3 separate regions of the Homo sapiens genome follow, and regions 2 and 3 are each reported to be linked to region 1. Evidence: microRNA targets listed by miRTarBase, many of them from high-throughput screens and not tested one by one. Region 1 holds a microRNA gene; each other region holds the end of a gene's coding sequence.
Evidence for each region. The annotated mature microRNA hsa-miR-378a-3p reads ACUGGACUUGGAGUCAGAAGGC and lies in region 1 at 2,613-2,634, shown strand. An mRNA with a match to its seed (bases 2 to 7 or 8) in the 3' UTR can be bound and repressed. Matches are read on the target gene's strand: a 7mer-m8 pairs with bases 2 to 8, a 7mer-A1 pairs with bases 2 to 7 and ends in A, and an 8mer does both.

Region 2: miRTarBase lists BYSL as a target of hsa-miR-378a-3p. Seed matches in the 3' UTR shown: 7mer-m8 at 3,607-3,613.
Region 3: the mRNA of HSP90AA1 is a reported target of hsa-miR-378a-3p. The part of its 3' UTR that is shown has no 7-base or 8-base seed match.

The regions. Positions count from the first base shown.
Region 1 is chr5:149,730,255-149,734,254 of GRCh38, forward strand. It overlaps MIR378A (microRNA 378a), which reads left to right and starts at 2,571; the gene lies at 2,571-2,636. It overlaps PPARGC1B (PPARG coactivator 1 beta), which reads left to right and starts at 56. Exons shown (of 12, transcript NM_133263.4): 1 at 56-166. The coding sequence starts at 89. RefSeq lists enhancers at 1-305, 544-663, 674-723 and silencers at 1-393, 1,194-1,293, 1,304-1,353, 1,374-1,463, 1,494-1,723.
Region 2 is chr6:41,932,460-41,936,459 of GRCh38, reverse strand. It overlaps BYSL (bystin like), which reads right to left. Exons shown (of 7, transcript NM_004053.4): 7 at 3,414-4,000. The coding sequence ends at 3,754. It overlaps CCND3 (cyclin D3), which reads left to right. Exons shown (of 5, transcript NM_001760.5): 5 at 353-1,508. The coding sequence ends at 520. Among named protein-coding and RNA genes, the nearest start is that of CCND3, 7.3 kb to the left of the region's middle.
Region 3 is chr14:102,078,489-102,082,488 of GRCh38, reverse strand. HSP90AA1 (heat shock protein 90 alpha family class A member 1) reads left to right here. Exons shown (of 11, transcript NM_005348.4): 10 at 45-378; 11 at 668-1,747. The coding sequence ends at 777. Among named protein-coding and RNA genes, the nearest start is that of HSP90AA1, 6.6 kb to the left of the region's middle.

The DNA.
Region 1 (4,000 bases):
CTCCCTCCTCCCTTGCTCGCTCGCTGGCTCCCTCCCCCCGGGCCGGCTCGGCGTTGACTCCGCCGCACGCTGCAGCCGCGGCTGGAAGATGGCGGGGAACGACTGCGGCGCGCTGCTGGACGAAGAGCTCTCCTCCTTCTTCCTCAACTATCTCGCTGACACGCAGGTACGGCCGGCTGGGGCTGCGGGCCCGGGGCCAGGGGTGCTGAGCTGCGGGGGCCGCAGCTGCAGCCGCGGAGGCCGGGAGGCAGCGGTGGGAGCCCTGGGGTAACTGGGGGTTCCAGGCTGCAGAGCCCCCCTTCCAGGCGCCCTGCGATGCGCTCCGTTACCGGGGCAGGGAGCCGGAGGTCTCCCGGCGCGTGCCGGAGCGCTGGGGGCGCTACGGCCGCTGGGGAGGGTCTAGCCTTGGCCGCTTGGAGTCTGCCACCCCGCGGGCAAAACTGGGGGGTACCGCGCTTCCTTTGGGAGGTGGAGGCGCGCCACGGTGTGGGGTACCCTCAGGCTGGCGCTGGGTGCTGGAGGCGCGCCGTCAGCGCCCGGCACTTGCTGCCGTACTTTCACGTGGACTTGTGGCCCCGGCACGGGTGCATGCCCGGGTCTCCGGAGTCCCCTAGTCCTCCAGGCTGTAGTCCCCAGAGTGCTGTTGCTGGCCCCCCGCGGCTTTCTACCCGCGCCCGCAGCGCGGAGTTTCCTGCCAGTTGCCGGCTAAAGGCATAAGGGTCTGCGGGGCACGTGGACATGCGGGCGGAGACAGCGTCTTCCTGGTTTCGCTATCGGGCGGAGCCCCCTGGGGGGAAAAGCCAGGCTGGATGGGGGCGGAAGGACTGTCTGGGGGCGCCTGGGTCCCCCTGCGGTGCGCGGCCCCGGTGCGCGCTCCACGATGCAGGGGGAAGGGAAGGCGAGGCGGAGTCCCAGGCACTGGCTGAGCCCGGGAGCCCCACTGGCGACACGCGCGTGACAGGAGAGGGTGCTCTGGTGTGCCGGGGCGCGGGGGAGCGAGGAAGCTGGTGGCTTGGAGACTGGGAGAGGGGTGCTGCTGGGACAAGCAGCCACCAAAAATGTCAGCACGAGGCGTGCGCGGCCCCCACCCCTTCCCCCATTTTCCCCACCCAATGCCTGTTGCAAGCATAAAGTTTGGCTCCAGAGTTAGGGCTTTTTCTCTGGGCGCCCGGCTGCGGGTCATTGGGAAGCTGAGGATGCGGCGGAACCTCGGAGGAGCCCCGGGTGCTGGCACACGCCTGGGCACGGAGAGGGGCGGCCGGGCGGAACCGGGCGCGGCTCGCGGGGGCTGGTTTGGTACCTGGAGTGGGAGCGCCGGTGCCGGCCCGTTTTGCATAACAGTGGAAGGGAGGGGGAAGGCGGAGATTGGGGGAGGGAGGTGGGAGGAGAGAGAGGGAAACTTTGCTTCTTGTTATAATCTGCCTGTCTTTGGGCGGCAGCAGCTGTCATGGGACCGGGTGGGCGGGGAGAGGCTTGCAAGCTGACTCCTTGCGGTGAAACGCGACTTGGAAGGGACGCCGCAGCCGAGACGTTCAGCTCCGGGCAGCGACTTCGGGCTGGCGGCTGGGACGGCGTGGCGTGGCAGGGTGTCGCCGAGAGGAAGCCCGCCACGCGGGAGGCAGGCCGCCCCTGGCCCGCTGCAGACGCCGCTGCGTAGGGGAGCCGCGGGGCCGCGTGGTCGGTGGCGGGCGCGCTCGGGTGGGTTCGCGGCAGAGGCCGGAGGGGCTAGTGGCGTGTGATTGCGCTTCTCGAGATCGAGGGGAATGTGTGATGAGCGGGTTGCGCGCGCGGGTGTGTGTGTGTGTGTGTGTGTGTGTGTGTGTGCACACGCCGCGCGCGCCGGGCGCGTACCTTTACCTCTGACGAAACTGCGGTGGAGCTCCCGCCGTCGTCGCCGGGCTCCGTCACACGCCCCGCGCCGGTGTCTGCGCCGAAGGCAGGTCCCAGCCTCAGTACCCCCAGAGCCGACAGCTTGGGGCTAGCGGGCACTGAGTGCGGGAGGAGGGGCAGAGTCACTCCTGGGAAGATTCTGTCCCCAGATCTCGAAATTGCCCTGGGGCGTCTCCGAATCTCTTGGCTGAAAAGCGGATGAGAGAGGCCTGAAATAGCCGGAGACTCGTTCAGGGACCCATGTCAAGAACTGTCCGCTTTGGACTGTACCCCGGATTTTAACTCGATCTTCAGTGTTTGGCTCAGCAATAATTAATTATTTTGCCCTTTAGCCGCCCAGCGAGCCTAGCTAGCAGAAATATTTCAACTAAGGAAACTAGAAAATTGAATACTCAGGTGTTTGCAGGAGCAGTGCAGTGAAAGTTAATCTGGGACATTTGCTTTTTTTATTTAACCACATGACAGGCCGAGGATCTTCTGGTGATCTTTGCCGGCCCAACTTGGGAAATGTAATTGATAGGATGAGCTTTGAGCCGCCCCTAGAAGGCTCGGAGAGCCCAGCCGGAAGAGGACCTGGGCGGGCCCAGTGTGCTCCTCCTTATTTTACAGCTGGAGAAAGAGGCTGCGAGGAGTGAGCGGCTTGTATGGGACCATGCAGCCAGAGGGTGACAGAGCCACCCAGGGCTCCTGACTCCAGGTCCTGTGTGTTACCTAGAAATAGCACTGGACTTGGAGTCAGAAGGCCTGAGTGGAGTCACCTTCCCCACTCTCTGGCTGGGTGACCCCGGAGCAAGCCATTTGAACTCTCCGAGCCTCATTTCCTCCATCTGTCAAATGGGGCTGGTGGTGCCGCAAGAGAATCCAATGGCCTGGTGGTGGGGGTGAGCAGTGTTTGCATGTGAGATGTTCTGGTTGTTCCTGCAACCCCCTCTCCTCCCCCAAACTTTCCCTGACCCTCCCCTCCTTCATCTCCCTTTGGGAGCTTTGGGGAAAGTGGATTAAATGGTAATTCATTGTCTTTGTCCCAAAAGATTGTTGTTGTCTTTGGTGGCTAATCCAGGGTTAGATTAGAGGGAGGACTTCTGTTTAGGAGACTTAACTTTTACCCATTGGGGCCAAAGTACGGAAATTTAGCAGAACAAGGATTGCGAAAGTTTCTTGGAAAGCTTTGAGGCATGGATCCCAAAGGACTGTGGGTGGCTTCACCTTTGTTCAGGCTATGCCCCTGGCCCAGAGTACCCTCACTCACCCGTCCTGCATGGCCTTCTCCTCTACTAGGCTCTCCCAGCCCAGCTTGCCCTGCTTTCTCTCCTTTGGTTTTCTGCATCTGTGTGATACAACCAAGCACTTTGTGTGAGTCTGGTGTCCAGTAAGATTCTAGCACTAGGGTTGTACCTTTTATCATTGTGCCTGCAAGGCACCTGTCAGTATGCTGAGCTGTGTTCCTTTGCTTAGCTCTTGGCTAGGCACATGGATTACAGACAGGGGTGCAGCTGGGTCCTGCCAAGCAGAAGCTCCCAGGCTAGCAGGGGAGACAGCTGGGCAGCGAGTGTGGGAGAGAGGAATGCAGAGGGCTGCAGCTGTGGGCAAAATTTTAGACCCCAAAGGCCACACAGCAAGTCCACACTAAATATGGGCTATTTGAAGTTGCTTAGGGCATCAGTCATAGATGCACAAAATGTCAGAGTTGGCAGCGGGAATGTTAGAAATCATCAGTTCTAACAACTTATTTAAAAATATTTAATTATAGAATTGTTAGAAAATACTGCCAAGCATAAAGAAAAAAATGAGAAATATGTAACATGACCCAAAGATAACCACTTAATTGTCATGTATATTCCAGACTGTTTATTTCCTGTTCATATAGATCACATCTTATTTTTAAAAAATGGAGTCGCCGGGCACGGTGGCTCACCCCTGTAATCCTAGCACTTTGGGAGGCCGAGGCGGGTGAATCACCTGAGGTCAGGAGTTCCGGACCAGCCTGGCCAACATGGTGAAATCCTGTCTCTACTAAAAATACAAAAATTAGCTGGGCGTGGTGACACACACCTGTAATCCCAGCTACTTGGGAGGCTGAGGCAGGAGAATCGCTTGAACCCGGGAGGCG
Region 2 (4,000 bases), not on the chromosome of region 1:
AAGTCCTGGTTTCACAACCTTGGGGCTTTGTGGCTTTTTATCTCCTGCCTTGGTCTGGGGAAGAGCAAGTATCTTGGGTGGGGTGAAGGGCACTGGCCCTAGGGGTTCTTTTCTTGCCAAGTGGTGTGCTGGAGTGGGGGTGGGGGGTTTGGTGTCAGATGCAGGGCTGCTCTCACACTCCCTTGCCACATCCTCTTGCTAGTTTCTGAGAACTAAAGAGCGATTCCTGGGGCCGGGCTGTGGCCTAACCTCCCCAGACTTCCCCATGTGTTGGGAGCTGTCCTTCCCCTGCACCTGCTGCCAGATGCTATGGGGGGAGTGTTTGCTCCTCACTCTTCTCCCATGTTCCCAGGACTGCCTGCGGGCCTGTCAGGAGCAGATCGAAGCTGCACTCAGGGAGAGCCTCAGGGAAGCCTCTCAGACCAGCTCCAGCCCAGCGCCCAAAGCCCCCCGGGGCTCCAGCAGCCAAGGGCCCAGCCAGACCAGCACTCCTACAGATGTCACAGCCATACACCTGTAGCCCTGGAGAGGCCCTCTGGAGTGGCCACTAAGCAGAGGAGGGGCCGCTGCCACCCACCTCCCTGCCTCCAGGAACCACACCACATCTAAGCCTGAAGGGGCGTCTGTTCCCCCTTCACAAAGCCCAAGGGATCTGGTCCTACCCATCCCCGCAGTGTGCACTAAGGGGCCCGGCCAGCCATGTCTGCATTTCGGTGGCTAGTCAAGCTCCTCCTCCCTGCATCTGACCAGCAGCGCCTTTCCCAACTCTAGCTGGGGGTGGGCCAGGCTGATGGGACAGAATTGGATACATACACCAGCATTCCTTTTGAACGCCCCCCCCCACCCCTGGGGGCTCTCATGTTTTCAACTGCCAAAATGCTCTAGTGCCTTCTAAAGGTGTTGTCCCTTCTAGGGTTATTGCATTTGGATTGGGGTCCCTCTAAAATTTAATGCATGATAGACACATATGAGGGGGAATAGTCTAGATGGCTCCTCTCAGTACTTTGGAGGCCCCTATGTAGTCCGTGCTGACAGCTGCTCCTAGAGGGAGGGGCCTAGGCCTCAGCCAGAGAAGCTATAAATTCCTCTTTGCTTTGCTTTCTGCTCAGCTTCTCCTGTGTGATTGACAGCTTTGCTGCTGAAGGCTCATTTTAATTTATTAATTGCTTTGAGCACAACTTTAAGAGGACATAATGGGGTCCTGGCCATCCCACAAGTGGTGGTAACCCTGGTGGTTGCTGTTTTCCTCCCTTCTGCTACTGGCAAAAGGATCTTTGTGGCCAAGGAGCTGCTATAGCCTGGGGTGGGGTCATGCCCTCCTCTCCCATTGTCCCTCTGCCCCATCCTCCAGCAGGGAAAATGCAGCAGGGATGCCCTGGAGGTGGCTGAGCCCCTGTCTAGAGAGGGAGGCAAGCCCTGTTGACACAGGTCTTTCCTAAGGCTGCAAGGTTTAGGCTGGTGGCCCAGGACCATCATCCTACTGTAATAAAGATGATTGTGAAATAAAACTGGCTTTGGCTTCTTGGATTGGTGTGTGGGTAAGTCTATTTCTGCACTGTATGAGGTAAGGAGGTGGAAGTCAATGGTCTAAAGCAGGGATCATTGAGCCTTTTCTGTAAAGGGCTGGATATTTAGGCTTTGTGGGGTACATGGTCTCTGACCCAAATATAGTCAGTTCTGCTTTATAATGTGACCTATGCGTTCCTAAAAATCACTATGCCATGCAAAATTGCACAATAAAGACCACAGGTCTCATGGGAAAAATGGGGCTTGAAGCACAACACTCAAATGAGTGACACATTTAAAAAAAAAGGATAGCTTGGTTTTTACATATGTCAAATGGTTGAGAAATTATATCACAATAAATATGGCCTTTTATCTTGAAGACATGCACTTTGCTTTTGGAAGTGGACGTCGGAAGGGTTGCTCAACACAGGTGGGGAGATGAGTGAGGTAGCTGGTACATGTTTAGGTGTGAGTTTTGTGTACTACTTAGGCTTGGTTCAGCTAGATACAGTTTCCCATATTCACCTACTATTTCTCGAGGATGAAATCACACACAAGCAAACATGAAGTCTGCGTTATGATCAAACTGTTCCCAAATATATTAAATGGGTTGGAACAAATGCGCAATTTCGAAAGCAAATAACAAGGGTTATAGCAGGATTATACTTAAACTCTGCTGTTGTAGCACAAAACCAGCCACAGAAAACATGTAAATGGGTGAGCATGGCTGTTCCAACAAAACTATTTATGGATGCTGAAACTGGAATTTCATGTAATTCCTACCTATCACAAAATACTGTTTTAATTTTTTCCCCATTTAAAAATGGAAAAATCATTCTTAGCTCATGGGCCACACAAAAATGGGCACTTGGGCTGGGTGCAGTGGCTCATGCCTGTAATCCCAGCACTTTGGGAGGCCGAGGCGGGTGGATCACCTGAGGTCAGGAGTTTGAGACCAGCCTGGCCAACCTGGTGAAACCCCTTCTCCACCCCGTCTCTACTAAAAATACAAAAATTAGCCAGGCGTGGTGGCACGCACCTGTAGTCCCAGCTACTCAGGAGGCTGAGGCAGGAGAATCTCTTGAACCATGGAGGCGGAGGTTGCAGCGAGCCGAGATCATGCCACTGTACTCCAGCCTGGGCGACAGAGCGAGACTCCGTCTCAAAAAACAAATCAACAAAAAAAGGGGCACCTGGCCCTAGTTTACTAGTCACTAGTCTAAAGCTTTCATTGGCTGAAAAGCCAGAAAGGGAGCCTGTTTGATGCTAGCTCTGATCTAACCATTCTTGGGCCCAGCCTTATTCTCTGGCCTTTTTTTTTTTTTTTTGAGACAGTCTTGCTCCGTGGCCCAGGCTGGAGTGTAGTGGCCCCAATCCTGGATCACCGCAACCTCCACCTCCCAGGTTGAAGCGATTCTCCTGCCTCAGCCTCCCAAGTAGCTGGGATTACAAGCACACGCCACCACACCCAGCTAATTTTTGTATTTTTAGTAGAGAAGGGGTTTCACCATGTTGGCCAGGCTGGTCTCGAACTCCTGAACTCAGGTAATCCACCTACCTCAGCCTCCCAAAGTGCTGGGATTACAGGCGTGAGCCACCAAGCCCAGCCTCTCTGGCCTTTCTTGACTCTTATCTCTGCTTTCCCCAAGGAGTTTTCTCTTGTAGTCCTTTCATCCACTGCTGAGACACGACCATCTTTGGACAACCTGCTCCTGGCTGCTGTAGCCTGTGATGGGGGAAGGCAGAGGATGTGTCCCCTGGGGGCTAACAAGGTGAGTGCAGCCTGGAGAAACAAGCTTGGAGATCAAGGGAGGTGGGTCCTATATAAACAGGACAAGAATGTCCTCCGTCCTCCAAATACTAACAGGAGTAATGCCTACCTCCATTGACTACACCAAACACAGAGGTTCAATAAATATCTGTCTTTGCCTTTATCCACAGTGACCTGACACAATAGCCATAGAAAAAGTACTCACACCAAGCCCCAGCTGGGGACTGGGAATGCTAGCATATGGTATCTCAAGTTGGCTCTCAGAACTAAACAGGGATAAGGGCCTAGAATGGAAGAGGGAACCAGCCAGACCCTCAGTCCTTCCTGTCCTGGACTGGGAGCCACAGATGTCCCTGTGATCTGTCACTGCCCTGATCTGGGTCTTCAGCCATTAAAGCTCAGTGTCATCTTCAGTCACCAACGGGGGTCTTGGTGTCCTTCCAAACCCCTTTGGCCAGGACAGCTGACTGTTTTCCTCACTCCACGGTGATGGGAACATCTTCCACATCGCGGGGGACTGCACTCTGAAGCTCACGCCTGATTTCGGGCGATAGCTGTGGATGGGGCTGCAGCCGGAGCAGTTCTAAGAGGGCCTCTTTCTGGTCTGTGGCCAAGTCGGCCTTGTAGCGCTGGACCAAAGTCAGGAGGCACTGGTGCCACAGCACAGGCAGTTCACGCTTCTCTGTCCGGAACCCCAGGAAGTGGAAGACTAGGGCATCCAGC
Region 3 (4,000 bases), not on the chromosome of region 1:
GAATTAATCTTTCTAGGTTCCTAGTCATCACTTTTTGATTACAGGTGGTTGTGTCAAACCGATTGGTGACATCTCCATGCTGTATTGTCACAAGCACATATGGCTGGACAGCAAACATGGAGAGAATCATGAAAGCTCAAGCCCTAAGAGACAACTCAACAATGGGTTACATGGCAGCAAAGAAACACCTGGAGATAAACCCTGACCATTCCATTATTGAGACCTTAAGGCAAAAGGCAGAGGCTGATAAGAACGACAAGTCTGTGAAGGATCTGGTCATCTTGCTTTATGAAACTGCGCTCCTGTCTTCTGGCTTCAGTCTGGAAGATCCCCAGACACATGCTAACAGGATCTACAGGATGATCAAACTTGGTCTGGGTAAGCCTTATACTATGTAATGTTAAAAAGAAAATAAACACACGTGACATTGAAGAAAATGGTGAACTTTCAGTTATCCAAACTTGGAGCACCTTGTCCTGCTTGCTGCTTGGAGGTATTAAAGTATGTTTTTTTTAGGGATAAGTAAGGTCTTACAAGAGCAAAGAAATGAAATTGAGACTCATATGTCCTGTAATACTGTCTTGAAAGCAGATAGAAACCAAGAGTATTACCCTAATAGCTGGCTTTAAGAAATCTTTGTAATATGAGGATTTTATTTTGGAAACAGGTATTGATGAAGATGACCCTACTGCTGATGATACCAGTGCTGCTGTAACTGAAGAAATGCCACCCCTTGAAGGAGATGACGACACATCACGCATGGAAGAAGTAGACTAATCTCTGGCTGAGGGATGACTTACCTGTTCAGTACTCTACAATTCCTCTGATAATATATTTTCAAGGATGTTTTTCTTTATTTTTGTTAATATTAAAAAGTCTGTATGGCATGACAACTACTTTAAGGGGAAGATAAGATTTCTGTCTACTAAGTGATGCTGTGATACCTTAGGCACTAAAGCAGAGCTAGTAATGCTTTTTGAGTTTCATGTTGGTTTATTTTCACAGATTGGGGTAACGTGCACTGTAAGACGTATGTAACATGATGTTAACTTTGTGGTCTAAAGTGTTTAGCTGTCAAGCCGGATGCCTAAGTAGACCAAATCTTGTTATTGAAGTGTTCTGAGCTGTATCTTGATGTTTAGAAAAGTATTCGTTACATCTTGTAGGATCTACTTTTTGAACTTTTCATTCCCTGTAGTTGACAATTCTGCATGTACTAGTCCTCTAGAAATAGGTTAAACTGAAGCAACTTGATGGAAGGATCTCTCCACAGGGCTTGTTTTCCAAAGAAAAGTATTGTTTGGAGGAGCAAAGTTAAAAGCCTACCTAAGCATATCGTAAAGCTGTTCAAAAATAACTCAGACCCAGTCTTGTGGATGGAAATGTAGTGCTCGAGTCACATTCTGCTTAAAGTTGTAACAAATACAGATGAGTTAAAAGATATTGTGTGACAGTGTCTTATTTAGGGGGAAAGGGGAGTATCTGGATGACAGTTAGTGCCAAAATGTAAAACATGAGGCGCTAGCAGGAGATGGTTAAACACTAGCTGCTCCAAGGGTTGACATGGTCTTCCCAGCATGTACTCAGCAGGTGTGGGGTGGAGCACACGTAGGCACAGAAAACAGGAATGCAGACAACATGCATCCCCTGCGTCCATGAGTTACATGTGTTCTCTTAGTGTCCACGTTGTTTTGATGTTATTCATGGAATACCTTCTGTGTTAAATACAGTCACTTAATTCCTTGGCCTTACAGTGTCTCAAAGTTCTTTACAAATCTACTTAAAGCCATCCTGGCTGAGGCAGGAGAATCGCTTGAACCTGGGAGGCGGAGGTTGCGGTGGGCTGGGATTGCACCATTGCGCTGCAGCCTGAGCAGCAAGAGCGAAACTCCATCTCAAAAAAAAGATGAAAAAATCAGCCCAATAGGTAAGAGTCCCTCTGGGGACTGGGGGTGGTAATGGCTAAATAAAAGTCTTCACTTCTGAAATTTGGTGGTTCTAGAGACAAAACTTGGTTAGATAGCATATAGGATTTGCATTCTGAGCCTAACGCCATATATAAAAATGATAGGAAATGCCTGGGACTTGGATATGTGACAGTGTCTAAGGGGGCAGTGCACAGGCAGGGAGAGACCTTGTCTCAGTCTCGTGCTAAGCAGGTATTGAATGCTTGGTAAATGGCAATCACGTTTAGTCCTTTAAATTCTCTGAAAAGTTCTTAATCCCCTTCGATAATATACAGGAGGAATTACGTAAATTGAGGTCTTAGTAGTGGCTGAATTTAAATTTAACTCCAAAGCCCCATTTTATTCTGCTAAGTTTTGTTGCGTACTGAAAGGTGTTAGAAGAAAGGTTTACGGTGTTAAACTAGGAAGTGAATGGCAAAAAGGGTAAAAAGTCAATTTTGTTTTTTCCCAGGTCTAGCAAGAGAATATTAAATCTTAAGATTTCTTTCAATTAAAAACATAAGGCACTTGAGGGAATCAAGTCAATATAGAACCTCTATAAATGATCTCCCAAATGAACTCATCCTCCTGGAGTTACTGGGAAAGCATTTATGGCAAATAGGTCCAGATGCACAGGTAAGTACCCATCTCCCAGCAACCCCCATGCTGGAGACTGTACCACCAAGAAGATGGATCCCCAGCCCAGTGAGTGAGAAGATGAGCTAGATGACACATGAATGTCATGCTGAAAATGCCCTTGCACTGCTCCAGGACCACAATTCTTACCCTATTGCTTCAAAATTCACTGTTGTTTCAAACCTTCCATAATCAAGTTCCATCCTGCCAGGGAGGGTGGTGAGTGCTGAAAAGACATGCAAACTGGACAAGAGAATTATAGATGACATGGTCGTCTAGGTAGGAAACTCATAAGGAATCTACCAAAATTATGCTAGAAATGATTTTAGCATAGGATAGTTGAGCCAGGCATGGTGAGTCACGCCTGTAATCCCAACACTTTGGGAGGCAAAGGTAGAATTGCTTGAGCCCAGGAGTTCAAGACTGTCTAGGCAACAAAGTGAGACCCTGTCCCTCTGAAAAAATTAAGGCCAGGTGTGGCTCATGCTTGTAATCCCGGCACTTTGGGAGGCCAAGGTGGGTGGATCACCTGAGGGTCAGGAGTTCCAGACCAGCCTGGCCAACATAGCAAAACCCCATCTCAACTAAAAATACAAAAATTAGCTGGGCGTGGCGGCAGGGACCTGTAATCTCTGCTATTCGGAAGGTTGAGGCAGGAGAATCACTTGAACCCGGGAGGCGTAGGTTGCAGTGAGCTGATTGCGCCACTGCACTTCAGACTGGGCAACAGAAGGATACACCGTCCCAAAAAAAAATTTAAAATAGCTGATCATGGTGGCACATGCCTGTAGTCCAGCTACTTGGGAGGCTGAGGTGGGAGGATTGCATGAGCTCAGGTGTTTAAGGCTGCAGTGAGCCATGATCATTCCACTGCACCCCAACCTGGGACACAGAGCAAGACCCTGTCTCTATAAAGATAAAAAAATGAAAGAAAAGCAGTAGTTGCCTGGGGCCAGGAGTCAGAGCAGGGAGTGACTGCAGAGAGGCAAGAAGGAACTTTTGAGGGCAATGGAAGTGCTGGAAAATGATCAGGTGGTGCCAGCTGTGTGTGTGTATATATATATGTTTTTTCTTTTTTTTTTTTGAGACGAAGTCTCACTTTATTGCCCAGGCTGGAGTGCAATGGCGTGATCTAGGCTCACTGCAAACTCCACCTCCCGGGTTCAAGCGATTCTCCTGCTTCAGCCTCCCGAGTAGCTGAGATTACAGGCACCCGCCACCATGCCCGGCCAATTTTGTATTTTTAGTAGACAGGGTTTCACCATGTTGGCCAGCCTGGTCTCGAACTCCTGACCTCAGGTGATCTGCCCGCCTTGGCCAGCTTTAAGTGCTGGAATTACAGGCATGAGCCACGCACCTGGCCAGGACTCTTTCATCTGCTTAGGGCTAACCCTCTCCTCCTGTCCTGAGAGCTCACT